Linked DNA regions of Homo sapiens. The protein of the gene in region 2 purifies or fractionates together with the protein of the main gene of each other region. This does not show direct contact. Each region holds a gene or a part of one and is shown on either strand. Other genes may lie near its edges. The genes, in order: NIPSNAP1, PPP1R3B, PPP1R7 and PPP1R2.

Region 1 (3,572 bases), on a different chromosome or scaffold from region 2:
GGAGCATGGCTGGGCCCATCAGCGGAGGAAGGTCCCCAGGGGATCACACAGGCAAGCTAGAGCTAAGGGCAGCTGGCTGCCAGCAGTCTAGAAACTCAGACTCTGTAACTTCCCATCCCCATCCCCAGCCTGACCTTCACCTGTTTTTTGACTCCATCTGTGCCTTGATTTTCCCATCTGCAAAATGGCCTGACCCTATGGTTTAAAGGTCTTTTTCCCAAAGGAAATGGCAAAAGTACTGTATGGATAGAAATCTACCAAAACCAGGAATGACCTGTGGAAAACGGATTAACGGAGAAAAGTTACAAGGACAGCATCATTGGCAAGAGGAAGGAATTTTCTTTATTTTTCTGTCACCCAGGCTGGAGTGCGGTGGCGTGATCTCAGCTCACTGCAACATCCACCTCCTGGATTTAAGAGACTGTCCTGCCTATGCCTCCCAAGTAGCTGGGATTACAGGCGCATGCCACCACGCCCAGCTAATTTTTGTATTTTTAGTAGAGACAGGGTTTCACCTTGTTAGCCAGGCTGGTCTTGAACTCCTGACCTCAGGTGATGCACCTGCCTCAGCCTCCCAAAGTGCTGGGATACAGGCATGAGCCACCGCGCCCAGCCAAGAAGAAGGAATTGTCTAACAACTGTGGTGCTCTCCATAGGAGATGGATCAATGGTTCTTACAAGTTTATTAAAATGTAGATTCTTGAACCCTACTCCCAGCGTACAGCTCAACATGATTCAGCTGACTATGTGAGGGACTGAACTTCAAGGTACAAAAAATGTAGGGTATGCTTTAAAAAGTCAGGATCAGCCAGGCGCAGTGGCTCAGGCCTGTAATCCCAACACTCTGGGAGGCTGAGGCAGGAGAGGAGCACTTGAGCTCAGGAGTCTGAGATCAGCCTGGGCAACATAGCAAGACCTCATCTCTACAAAACAAACAAACAAACAAAACAAAACAACTAGCCCAGGCATGGTGGTGCATGTCTGTGGTCCCAGCTACTCGAGAAGTTGAGGTGAGAGGATCGCCTGAGCCTAGGAGTTCAAGGTTACAGTGAACTATGATCATGCCACTGCACTCCAAACTGGGTGACAGAGCGAGACCCTGTCCCAAACAGAAAAATAAAAAGAAGAAAAAGGCCAGGGGCAGTGGCTCACGCCTTTAATCCCAGCACTTTGGGAGGCCGAGGCAGGTGGATCAACTGTGGTCAGGAGTTCGAGACCAGCCTGGCCAAGATGGTGAAACTCCATCTCTACTAAAAATACAAAAATTAGCCAGGCATGGTGGTTCATACTTGTAGTCCCAGCTACTCGGGAGCCTGAGGCAAGAGAACTTGCTTGAATCCGGGAGGCAGAGGTTGCAGTGAGCTGAGATCACGCCACTGCACTCCAGCCTGGGCAACAGAGTGAGACTCGGTCTCGAAAAAGAAAAAAAAGAAAAAGTCAGGATCCCATCCCTCAGAGTTCATTTCACAACTAGCAAATGCTTAAGAGAATTCAAGGAATACTGCTGGAGCTGATCAAGTCAAGCTTAAAATGGGAAAGCTGTAGTGGCTGAAACTGAAGGCAATTTGCTTTTCTCTTATTCCCTTAGCCACATATCAGTGTCTAGCCAGGTATGATGGCACACGCCTGTAGTCCCAGCTACTCAGGAGGATTGCCCGAGCCCAGAAATTCAACTCCAGCCTGGGCAATATAGTGAGACCCTGTTTCTAAATGGAAATAATAAAAATAAAACATAAATAATATGTTAATGTCTGTTACGGAAACCAAATAATTGATTAAGGAGATACACCTATCTATCTGCAGGTCACAGATTATTTTCAAAGACACGATTATCAGGGCTGTCAAAGGATGAAATAGATTGGCTTACAAGTGAACTCTTCATGGCTAGGAGTGTTCAAGGGAAGTTTAGAGGACCATCTGTTATGGCTGTGCTATGCAGACACTCTAAACCAGTACTGTCCAAAAGTACTTTCTGCATGAGCCTGTGTGTATATGAGTGAGCATTTGAAATGTAGCTAGTATGACTAAGAAACTGAATTTTTTCTTTTTAAAATCTTTTCTTCTTTTTTTTTTAATATGTATTTTCTTTATAGAAGCAAAGTCTCACTATGTTGCCCAGGCTGGTTTCAAACTCCTGGCCTCAAGTGTTCCTCCCACCTCAGCCTCCTAATCTGCTGGGATTATAAGCATAAGCCACCATATTCAGTCCTGAATTTTTTCTTTTTTAGAGACAGGGTCCTCACTGTGTTGCCCAGGCTGGAGTGCAGTGGCTATTCATAGGTGTGATGGTATTCAATCACGGCCTCGAACTCCTGGGCTCAAGCAGTCCTCCCAACTCAGCCTCCCAAGTAGCTAGGACTACAGGTGAGCACCTTGGCACACAGCTTGAACTTTAAATTTTATGTAATTTTAACTAATATAAATTTCAATAGCTACATGTGAGGCCAGGGCGCAGTGGCTCACACCTGTAATCTCAGTAGTCCAGGAGGCCAAGGCTGACGGATTGCTTGAGTCCAGGAGTTCAAGACCAGCCTGGGCAACATAGCGAAACCCTGTCTCTACTAAAAATATAAAAAATTAGCTGGCTGTGGTGGTGCACACCTGTAGTTCCAGCTACTTGGGAGGCTGAGGTGAGAGAATCATCTGAGCCCGGGAGGTCAAGGGTGCAGTGAGCTGTGATTGCACCACTGCAGTCCAGCCTGGGAAACCAGAGTGAGACGCTGTCTCAAAAAAATAAATAAATAGGCCAGGCGCAGTGGCTGATGCCTGTAATCCCAACACTTTGGGAGGCTCAGGCGGGAGGATCATGAGGTCAGGAGTTCAAGACCAGCCTGACCAACATGGTGAAACCCTGTTTCTACTAAAAATACAAAAATTAGCCAAGTGTGGTGGCACACGCCTGTAACCTCAGCTACTCAGGAGGCTGAGGCAGGAGAATCACTTGAACCCAGGAGGCAGAGGTTGCAGTGAGCCAAGATTGCACCACTGTACCCCAGCCTGGGTGACAGTACAGAGCGAGGCTCCATCTCAAAAAAATAAATAAATAAATAACTACATGTGGTTAGTGGCTATCATTTTGGACAGTGTGGGTCTGAATTTGAGGTCCCTTTGAGTGGCTGAGATGCTGTGAGTCAGCCAAATTCATGTGTGGGTTCTTATAGCTGGTGCCAACTTTGATGTGTCTATTAGGCTGGGATGGGGCATGCTAGGGGTGCCCCTGGGACTGTAAGACACCAGCTCAGACAAGAAGAACTCCTATTTATTCCACAAATATGTGCTGCATATTGGGGATTCACCCATATATGGAGACAGACAACTAAACAGGCAGCTATAGGGGTACATGATCAGGGCGTGAGGAGGTAATTACTGAGGCCTGGAGAGCTAAGGAAGGTGCCTGACCCAGCCCGCGTGGAGGAAATCTCGGCAGCCTTCCAGGAGGAGGTGACATCTATGCCAAAATAGAAAAGTGAATAGTCCAGGCACTGTGGCTCATGCCTGTACTCCCAGCACTTTGGGAGGCCAAAGTGGAAGGATCGCTTGAGCCCGGGAGTTTGAGACCACCCTGGGTAACA
Region 2 (2,524 bases):
TACACACTAGCTGCTAAACTTTAATACACTCTGCCTTTCCACTGGAGCCACCGCCCACTTCCCCAGGGTGGCAGAGGACTTGTTGACATGGAACTTCTAGATGCAGCTTCCCACCCCCACTCTGCCTGCATCTTGTCCTGAACTTTGGAAAAAAGCAGCTCTGGAAATCTCACTTAGGGTGACTATCCGCTACCTATCCGGGGCTGTTTTGTTTTGCTGCTTAGTTTGTTTGCTCAAGCAGTTAAAAGCTATGGTAGCCATTTATAGTTTTCCTGCTTTTGTTTGAATACGTCTGTCTGCACTGTACTTCAAGTGCAAATGACAGGGTAAGAATGCCTATGACCTAGGATCATTAAAAATGGGTGCAGAATAACACTAGCTCCTGTATCTCTTCCCTAGCACTTACCTTCTCAGCTATGCTAAAGCAATTAACTCCTCTCTGCCTTGCACATTTAACTCAGCCATTGACTGCAAGCTTTTTCTTTGGAAACCTAAGATCTACATGTGGAAACATATCGATTTGAAATGTTTCTCCACTTACTCTGGCTCTAAGAATAGAAGGACACTTTCAGTTTTGTTTTGTCTTCCTTTATTACATTTTTGCTTTTGAGATACAAACCAACCTCTCATACCACACAAAGAACATCCATTCTTGGGATTTTTAAAGTGCATTTCCCCTTGAACTCTGTGTACAAAAATATTTATCTTTTAAAACATGCAAAAATTTCTTGACAAGGCACTTTTAGGTATAAAATGAAGATGAGTCCTTGGTTCTACATTCACACTGAAGTAATAGTGAAACATCATCACAGCTGCACTCTCAAAGCCCTCAGAGGTCCAGCAGTCTCTAAAAACTCGTCAACAAGACTAAAAACATTCACGGCTTTACAATGTGGGTTACAGAGCTTTACAACCATGACCAGGAAAAACTGCTCGTAACAACAGCTGTCCTTCCCAGTTCCACATGTGTTGTCTCACTGCAGGAAATTAAGATAAGCTGCCAAATTGTCTTTGTGTGACCCTATAAGATCCCATCATCCATGTAACTTCTTGTCTCCGATTTCAGTGAACATGTCAGGAGAGACGTGATCGGGACTCTCCCAGGACTACATTCAGGTGAGAAATTTTAGAAGAGGAAACAAATAAAAGGCAACCAAGGTTTTCATCCCCTATCCATTGAGAGGGAAGATCCAGAAAATGGGCAGTTCCAAAAAAGGAACACTTTTTTGATTGATAAGCATATATGGCCCATTTAATGTCCATGACTACAACTAATGCCTTTTTTCAAAAAGAAAATGGTTTGAAAAGATCAAAACCACAGAGCAATCTCCTAACAGTTCCAAATTTACATCTTCTAAGAATGTATAATTTTGCCACCATTAAAATGAAATCTTAAAGGTAAATTAAATTCTCCCATTGACTCTGACATTGTTTTAATTTCTGGAGAACTGTACAGCTTCATTATTTCTCACCAGCTCCAGTAGAATAATTTTTTAAATAAAGAAACCCACTCAAATGCTTCATGTCTTCCAATAGATACTGAAAGCTTATTTATTAAATATCTTTGTATAATCCAGCTTATTTATTGTACCCAGTTTGCAAATGCTCCTCAGGGCACTTGAGGGAATAAATATAAAACAAAAATGAAGTTGCTTCCCTATTGCCGGACAACTGCACCTGTGACAGGTGGCTGGTCTTTCTGGGGCAACCTGGGAAAGATTCTGGGACTCGGGGGCCACTTGTAACCATAACCAAGAGCTGTCTGAAGGCAAATCTACAAGTCAAGGTGCAGTGAAGTCTCCAAGTAAGAAACCTGTCACCCTCTGAAGTGTGTAGGCTTATCTACTGATGATGAGCTATCAAACAAGGAGAGAATACATCAGCGCAGCTCCCGAGGCCTTCTGAGAATTTCACGGGACAGAACTGGGCCAAAAGGAAGAAGACTGTTTGCGGCAGGAGGGTAGCAGAGGAGCAAGTGGTAAACAGAAGACAGATAGAAGGCAGTATTCTTCAGACCCCCATACATCACTGAATGACAGCCCTGATGAGGAAACTCAGGCAAGTAGAGTCTTTTATTGGAGAAGAAGGGTCTTTGCGAGCAGGTGAGGACTTGCCTTCTGAACTGTGCGGCAGGGTGAGCATCCCAGGTGTGCTGGCTGGGGGCTTGCATCCAGCACCCCCAGCAAAAAAAGCCAGGGTGAGCTGGGAGAAAGACGGGTAGTGGGGAGGGTTTACGGCTGCTTTAGAAGAGATAGTTATCACTGAATTACCATATTTCAAATTTTGACATGGGAATGTCTTAAGATCATTATTAGATAAAATTAAACTGACTTTATTAAACAGAGTCACTTCAGGCCTTTTTCTTATGAACAGAGTGATCCTTAGTCGGGTAACATGTCAATGACAGTGCACTCTGTGCCTCTCCTGCATTGTGGGGAGGGCACTTCTTAAGGCAAAGTAAAATTCAGGACCTGCATGAAATCAGTTTTGCTTCCATTTGAGTTCGATTTATGCTATTAATAGT
Region 3 (3,572 bases), on a different chromosome or scaffold from region 2:
GTTGTTCCCTGGCTTCTTTGCCAACTCCCTATGCACTAATTCAACCAGCCTACCACCAGCCACACCTTCCTTCAAGGGTGGGCTGCACATAGACCCACCTGGACTCATTGAGGCTCCCCCTGGCCTGGTACATCTTTATCACCTGCCAAATTCTGGCTCTGATCTTCCCAGACATGCTCTGGTATCCCATCATGACACTACTCAAGACCCAGTGCCACTAATAAGGGGCAAGGAACATTTGCAGCAGGCCACCTGTGTTCTAGGGAAACTTGGATGACCTTTTAAAGTGGGGAAAGGAGAAAGCACAGGACATAAGCAGGGTCAGCAGCACGGCTAGAGGAGAGACAAGGAAGAATGATGCCTTACACTCAGCATGAATCCTGGATTAGACTGAATGTATCTGAGGACACTACTACATTCCCAGCATCACAGGGTGACACCTGTGCCGCAGTCTCTGCAGGGCCACGTGCTAGCGGAAAGGCAATAAACCTTAGGAGATTTCTCTAAGGGAATCCTAGCACTGAAGACTTCCACTCGGGGATCATTTCCCAACCCCTTTAGAGGAACTGCAAAAACTTCTTATATTCTGTTTCTCTTCCTGCTGACTCCACAACACTACTCCTGAAACCATACCTGTGACAAGACAAATACAAGGCAAATTCCAAGATGACTAACTGCAGAAACCCATCCAACATTTCCTTCTGTTGTGCTGGAATATATCTGTAGGGAATGCGTCTGCCTCTCTGCTGAGGTTTGCAAACCATTTGGTCAAATGACAATTGTAGGTTCTACCCATACCTAGATCAGGGCTTCTCCAACCTTTGTGTGTACTGCAATCACCCGGAGTCTTGTAAAGCAAAGATTTTGACTCAGTTTTCATCTGGGCTATGGTGGGGCCCAAGATTTTGCATTTCTAACAAGCTATGTCAATGCTGCTGATCTGTGGCTCACGCTGAGGAGCACAGACAACACCCAATACAAGTCTACAAGAGCGCCCACCCCAAATCTCATGATGTGCGGAGTCACTCAGCATGAAGGCTTACAGGAGATTCTTGTATTCATTCATAAGACATTTTAATCAGTGAGACCAGTTTAGTCAAAGTGTCATCAACCCCAGCGTGTATTAAACTTACCCAGAACTCTTGCAGCTCTGTTAGATGGCTGATATTTTCAATCTTTTTGATTCTATTTGATGCAATGTCCAACATCGTGAGTTTGTTCTAAAAGAAGGAAATAAAATGTTTCCTGGATTACCTCTGATCAACAGTGATTTGCATGACCACGCAGGCAGTGTCAAGTGCTGACCTTAGGGCTGCAGGTGCACTGCCCTCTCTGCCCTCACAGGGTAAGGGCATGCTATGGAGGGTGACGAGACCTGCTTGCTTCCTGCAGCCCTCCCTGGGACAGTGTTTCCATCAGAGCCTGCCCAGCTATCTCCCTGAGCTCTCCTGATCGCTGGAATTTGAGACTGTGTCAGACTCCAAGCCCAGTCCTCCCAGATCCCTGTCCATTGAGACAGACCTAGTGAGACTGATGGTCCCAGGAAGAACCGAGTAACCCCCTGACGCTCTGAAGAAAGGCTGACAATTGTAGAAACATTTACTTAGTGCTCATCACGAGGAAATGTACGACCAAGTAATCTTCAAAACAAAGTTCCTCTCTTCATTTAGGGATGAGGAACTTGGGGCTCAGTGGGGCTAAGAATCTGCCCAGGCGCACAGTAGCAGTGGGAGAGGCAGGACTCTCAGACCCCAGGCCTACACTCTTGTCTGGGAAAAGGGTCCCGGGAGCATAAGTGCAGAGAAGGGACCCATGCTGAGGACTGGGTGCTGGGCCTGCTGAGCACCTGCTGCAGGGTGTGTGCCCCCACTGGGAGACAAGAGTGTGTTTTTAGGATCTTCTACTCTGAAAATGCACATCAGTTACTCACTTTCCAATACATGTTAGCTAAGCCTGAGTAATAATTTTGTTTCTCATCAAAAGGAAAACATTTACAAGCTGTCTGAGAACCTCTGACAAAGTTCATTCCCTTCTCTGCCCTCACGCTCTGCTCCCTCCTGAGTCCCTTCCTTGGTTTTCTACTGCATTTTTGGTATTCCAATTCCAAAGCCTTCTAAGTTTTAAGGGAAAGTTAAAAAATTTCTCAAAAGCAAATACTCCTCCCCCCATCTCCCCTGAAATGTACCCAGCCAGTAGCTTTCCCAATTCGAAAGCGCTATGGCTGTGGCCTGGGAGCTCCTCTGGCTGTACCACCCTTGCTGCCTTGGCGCCCAGCACCCCAGCTGGCACCAGCTGCGTGTGTCAAGTCTGACGCCACTCTCCAGCAGGCTATACGTGGCATGCTGCCTAGGAGGTGCCTTCAAACCACCCCATCTCGGTGCCCTGGTCAGGTCTGCTCACAGAGTATCAGGCTCAACAGTGTGCGAGGGAGCTCAGTGGGGCGGGTTCAGAGCAAAAAGGACTGCAGGAAAATGTTGCAGAAGACGCGACTGTGGGTAATCCAACGACACACCGCCTGGCGGTGGGGCTGGAACAGGCCTCTCTAGCACGGACGGCAGCTCTCCCCCGCACTCTGCACCATTCTGAGATGCTCATGGTCATCTGGTATGCAAGCCCAGAAACTGGCAAAATGAAAGTGGCCTGGAACACACGCAGGATTTGAGCCTCGTGAGGTCCAAGCACCAAGGCTCAGCACGAGGGGCAGAGCCGGTGGTGGGCTCTGGCTGTCAGAACCGGTCCATCACCTCTGAGCTCAGGGATCCATGTAGGCACTCAACACTATTTCACGTTTTTCTACAGGAGCTGGACAATGTTGTGAAAACTCATCCAAAAGCAAACTAGTAAGAACTGCTTAAGAAACAGAAAAAAAGAATGGAACAGGGTGAGGAGAGCAGGCACACCAAAGGGCATGACACAACGCCACAGAAACTACACCTGTCAGGGACCACTGCAAACATATTCTAGACCAACGGGAGAGCCCAGAGCTGGAGAAGACACGAAGAACAAGACAGGAGTCGTGAGACACTGGGATGGGGGGTGTCGTCTAAGTTCCCACCTGGGACAAAACTACATTTACTTTCTTATTTCCCACCATAAAAATAAATTCCAGATAAATTAAGAAACAAAACTTAGGAGAAAATATTTGTCTGATCTTTAGTTGAAAAAAATGGCAGAAGAAAGACTGTCACATTTGATCATGATGAAGATTACAATAACGTAATTACCTTTAATACAACAATTTTTTTTTTTCTGTTTTGTTTCAGAGGCCCAAGAATAATCTGGTGTTTAACCAAGATCACAGTGTAGCACTTCTACTGGTAAAATTCTGAACCACACTTCTTTCCAGTTTTCCTGGGACTGGCTGCTTATGTGAACTGTGCTGCAGATTGTCTGTCTCCCGGTGGATGCTTGGTGGTGACTGCAGGGCCTTGGCTCAGGGAGGCCAGGGTGCAGGAGGGCACCAGGGCTCCCTGCTGCGCACCCCACCCGGCCCCAACCCCAGCCCCTGCCACACAGTCCTCAGCGCCATTCCACTGCAGGCACGTCTCGACTTACCACTCTAAACTACACAG
Region 4 (3,572 bases), on a different chromosome or scaffold from region 2:
GAAACAGTGATGCTCATTTGTTTTTGTCATGCTTAAGGCTGCTTTTGTGTTCAATGGCAGAGTTGAGTAGTTCGTAATAGAGACCACTGGGCCCTGCAAAATTTAAAATATTTACTATCTGGCATTCATCTCAATGGAAGAACAAGAATATATCCAGCCATTAGAAATTATATTTGTGAAGAAAGATTAAAGCTATGGGAAAATTATCCAGAAAGAGTTAAATGGTGACAAAAGAGCGAGTTACAACACCATATACTATATTTACTATGTACAATGCCTGTCACATACACACACAGAGAGAAAAATAAGACTCAGCAATTAACAGTGTTTAATTCTGAGTCAAGGAACAATGAAGTAGTTTTAATATTTTATTATTTTCTATTTTTATAATTAAGAAAAAATCCTTTAAAACAATTCTTACCTGTTAAGAAACTGCCATGATTTAAGACATTGTTGGCTAAAAACGTAACCTCATTTTCAGAGTAATTTTAAGAAAAACGTATTATAAAGTAATGGTGAAGTGACTCCAAAATATTTCATTTTAGTCTTCACCATAGAAACATAAAGCTGGCAGCAACACAACTGATCACACTAGAGCAACTATTTATGAATACATAATTTTAAGGTTTTTAACTTCCTTAGATCAGAAAATTAAAAAAAAAAAAAAACAACAGAAAAGGGGGGGCCAATATAAAATTGCCAGCTATTTTACCAATGAACAGCATTAAAATTATTCACCGTTGTTTTATTTTTTCTTTTTTTCAAGATGGAGTTTCACTCTAATTGCCCAGGCTGGAGTGCAATGTGCAATCTTGGCTCACGGCAACCTTAGCCTCCTAGGTTTAAGCGATTCTCCTGCCTCAGTCTCCCGAGTAGTTGGGATCACAGGCATGTGCTACCACTCCTGGCTAATTTTGGTAGTTTTAGTAGAGACGGGGTTTCATCATGTTGGCCAGGTTGGTCTCCAACTCCTGACCTCAGGTGATCCGCCTGCCTTGGCCTCCAAAAGTGCTGGGATTACAGGCATGAGCCACTGCGCCTGGCTTCACCATTGTTTTATTAAAAATTTCATCAAAATATTTCAATGTCAAAAATGCACAGAGGCCAGATGCTGGGGCTCATGCCTGTAATCCCAGGAGTTCAAGACCAGCCTGGGCAACATGGCAAGAACCTATCTCTACAAAAAAATTACAAAAAATTAGCTGGGTGTGGTAGTACACGACTGTGGTCCCAGCTACTGGGAAGGCTGAGATGGGAGGACTGGCTAAGCTTAGAAGGCTGAAACTGCAGTGAGCCGCGACTATGCCACTGCACTCCAGCCTGGGTTGACAAGTGAGACCGTAGCTCAAAAATTTATTTATTTACTTTTTAAAAAGCAGAGACATCTCTCAATAAGGGTATTTACAGTACTTTCTTCTTTTTTTTAAATTTTAATTTTTAGAGATGAGATCTCACTGTTGCCCAGGCTGGCTTCCAACTTCTGGGCTCAAGCAGTCCTCCTACCTCAGCCTCCCAAGTAACTGGAACTACAGATGCGTGCCACCACACCTGGCCTCCAAAGTACTTTCTCTTTGTTTGATTTTTACTAGAGACGGGGTTTCACCATGTAGGTCAGGCTGGTCTTGAACTCCTGACCTCAAGTGATCCACCTGCCTCAGCCTCCCAAAGCACTGGGATTACAGGTGTAAGACACCGCACCTGGCCAGTACTTTCTTAATTCCCTAAGCTTTTATCAACATCTATACTTATATTTTTAAAACTTATACTGAAGTCCGGGCGCAGTGCTCACGCCTGTAATCCCAGCACTTTGGGAGGCCGAGGAGGGCGGATCATGAGGTCAGGAGTTTGAGAACATCCTGGCTAACATGGTGAAACCCCGTCTCTACTGAAAATACAAAAAATTTGCTGGGCGTGGTGGCACACGTCTGTAATCCCAGCTACTCAGGAGGCTGAGGCAGGAGAATCACTTGAACCTGGGAGGTGGAGGTTGCAGTGAGCGAAGATCGCGCCACTGCACTCCAGCCTGGGCGACAGAGCAGGACTCTGTCTCAAAAAAAAAAAAAAAAAAAAAAAAGAACTGCAATAATTACCCAGTTTAGACAATAAAGTATATGAACATACAGTAAACATTCTGCCATAATGATTTATGTAATTTTAAAATCGTTACAAGTTGTTGAGTCATAATTTAATTCCCTATTTTTGGTTAAAGATTTCTGATTTCCTTCATGTTTTCAATGTTTCTTTTGGTTTGTTTTTATTTTGTGAAGGTATATCAGCAATTTTCAATGTTTTTAAGACTATATATATAAAATATATTGTGCATTTGTTCTATTATTTTCTCAGTATGAGCCAGTGTTTTTGAAACTGTGCATCATGATTATTTATGTACTTATTTATTTTTTTAAAGACAAAGTCTCACTCTGTCACCCAGCCTGGAGTGCAGTGGCATGATACCGGCTCACTGCAACCTCCACCTCCCAGGTTCAAGCAATTCTTGTGCCCCAGCCTCCCGAGTAGCTGGGATTAGAGGCGCCCACCACCATGCCTGGCTAATTTTTGTATTTTTAGTAGAGATGGGGTTTCGCCATGTTGGCCAGGCTGGTCTCAAACTCCTGGCCTCAAGAGATCCTCCTGTCTCAGCCTCCCAAAGTGCTGGGATTACAGGCATAAGCCACCAAACCCGGCCATCATGATTCTTAATAAGTCATAACTAACATTTAAAAAGGTTAAGGCAGACTATTTATATGAATACAACAAGTGAATTATTCTTTTTATACCTACTTTTACTTTTTATGGGGGAATATCTTAAGTTGTTAAAAGTTAGTATTTAGTGAGTGCTCACAATATGCCAAGATCAGTGATAAGTGCTTTAAATGCTTTAACTCATTTAGTAGTCACCAAAATATTTTTACAGCTGCCAATTTAGAAATGAGAAAACGGAGGCTCGGAGAAATTATGCAAATTAGCCAAGTGGCATACCTGGAGCACAAACTTAGGTTTGTCTGTCTTCTTAGACAATAATCTTAATTGTTATGCTGTGAGTTACAGTTTTTCTCCCTAAGCTATCTACTGTCAATAGACAACAATTTTTCAGCCACGTAACATCTATATAATTCAGTAATAACCCCACCAGTGGAAAATGAATTAATGAAATTATAATTAGTCAAATGGCTCCCCCTGCTGGTTGACTCATGAAATCACAACTTGAGAAAAACATCCCTCAATTAAAACTGACATTAACAAAAAATTCCTTATTCTCAACAGATCATGTTTTTAGAGAGTAATGAGGAAACAAACTCCAGAAACTATTTCTATTTGAAATACTTTTCAAGGATCTTTTGGGGTATATTTTGGGAAAATAAATGGAAAGTCACTGAAAGTTGAGATACAATACAACTTGAGAATATGCTACATGTAAAATTTCTCTCGTACAAATATTAGGCTCAGCCCATCATAGCTCTGTTGAACAGGCTATATTCTGAAGATGATAGGAAAGACTAGTAAATGATATCTTAGCAGCTACACGACAAAGATCCTTCGTTCTAAAGTTTCTCAGCTTCTTCACGGTACAG

The links.
Region 1: the proteins of PPP1R3B (region 2) and NIPSNAP1 purify together in Homo sapiens (co-immunoprecipitation; one large-scale study listed by IntAct). This does not show direct contact.
Region 3: the proteins of PPP1R3B (region 2) and PPP1R7 purify together in Homo sapiens (co-immunoprecipitation; one large-scale study listed by IntAct). This does not show direct contact.
Region 4: the proteins of PPP1R3B (region 2) and PPP1R2 purify together in Homo sapiens (co-immunoprecipitation; one large-scale study listed by IntAct). This does not show direct contact.

Annotation. Positions count from the first base shown.
Region 1 is NC_000022.11:29,564,098-29,567,669, forward strand, and holds part of NIPSNAP1 (protein NipSnap homolog 1), read right to left. Parts: intron 1-3,572.
Region 2 is NC_000008.11:9,135,683-9,138,206, forward strand, and holds the end of PPP1R3B (protein phosphatase 1 regulatory subunit 3B), read right to left. Parts: 3' UTR 573-2,524; downstream 1-572. UniProt on the Homo sapiens protein: Acts as a glycogen-targeting subunit for phosphatase PP1. Facilitates interaction of the PP1 with enzymes of the glycogen metabolism and regulates its activity.
Region 3 is NC_000002.12:241,167,429-241,171,000, reverse strand, and holds part of PPP1R7 (protein phosphatase 1 regulatory subunit 7), read right to left. Parts: intron 3,326-3,572; exon of another isoform or gene 3,264-3,325; intron 1,221-3,263; coding exon 1,134-1,220; intron 1-1,133. UniProt on the Homo sapiens protein: Regulatory subunit of protein phosphatase 1.
Region 4 is NC_000003.12:195,519,265-195,522,836, forward strand, and holds part of PPP1R2 (protein phosphatase inhibitor 2), read right to left. Parts: intron 1-3,572. UniProt on the Homo sapiens protein: Inhibitor of protein-phosphatase 1.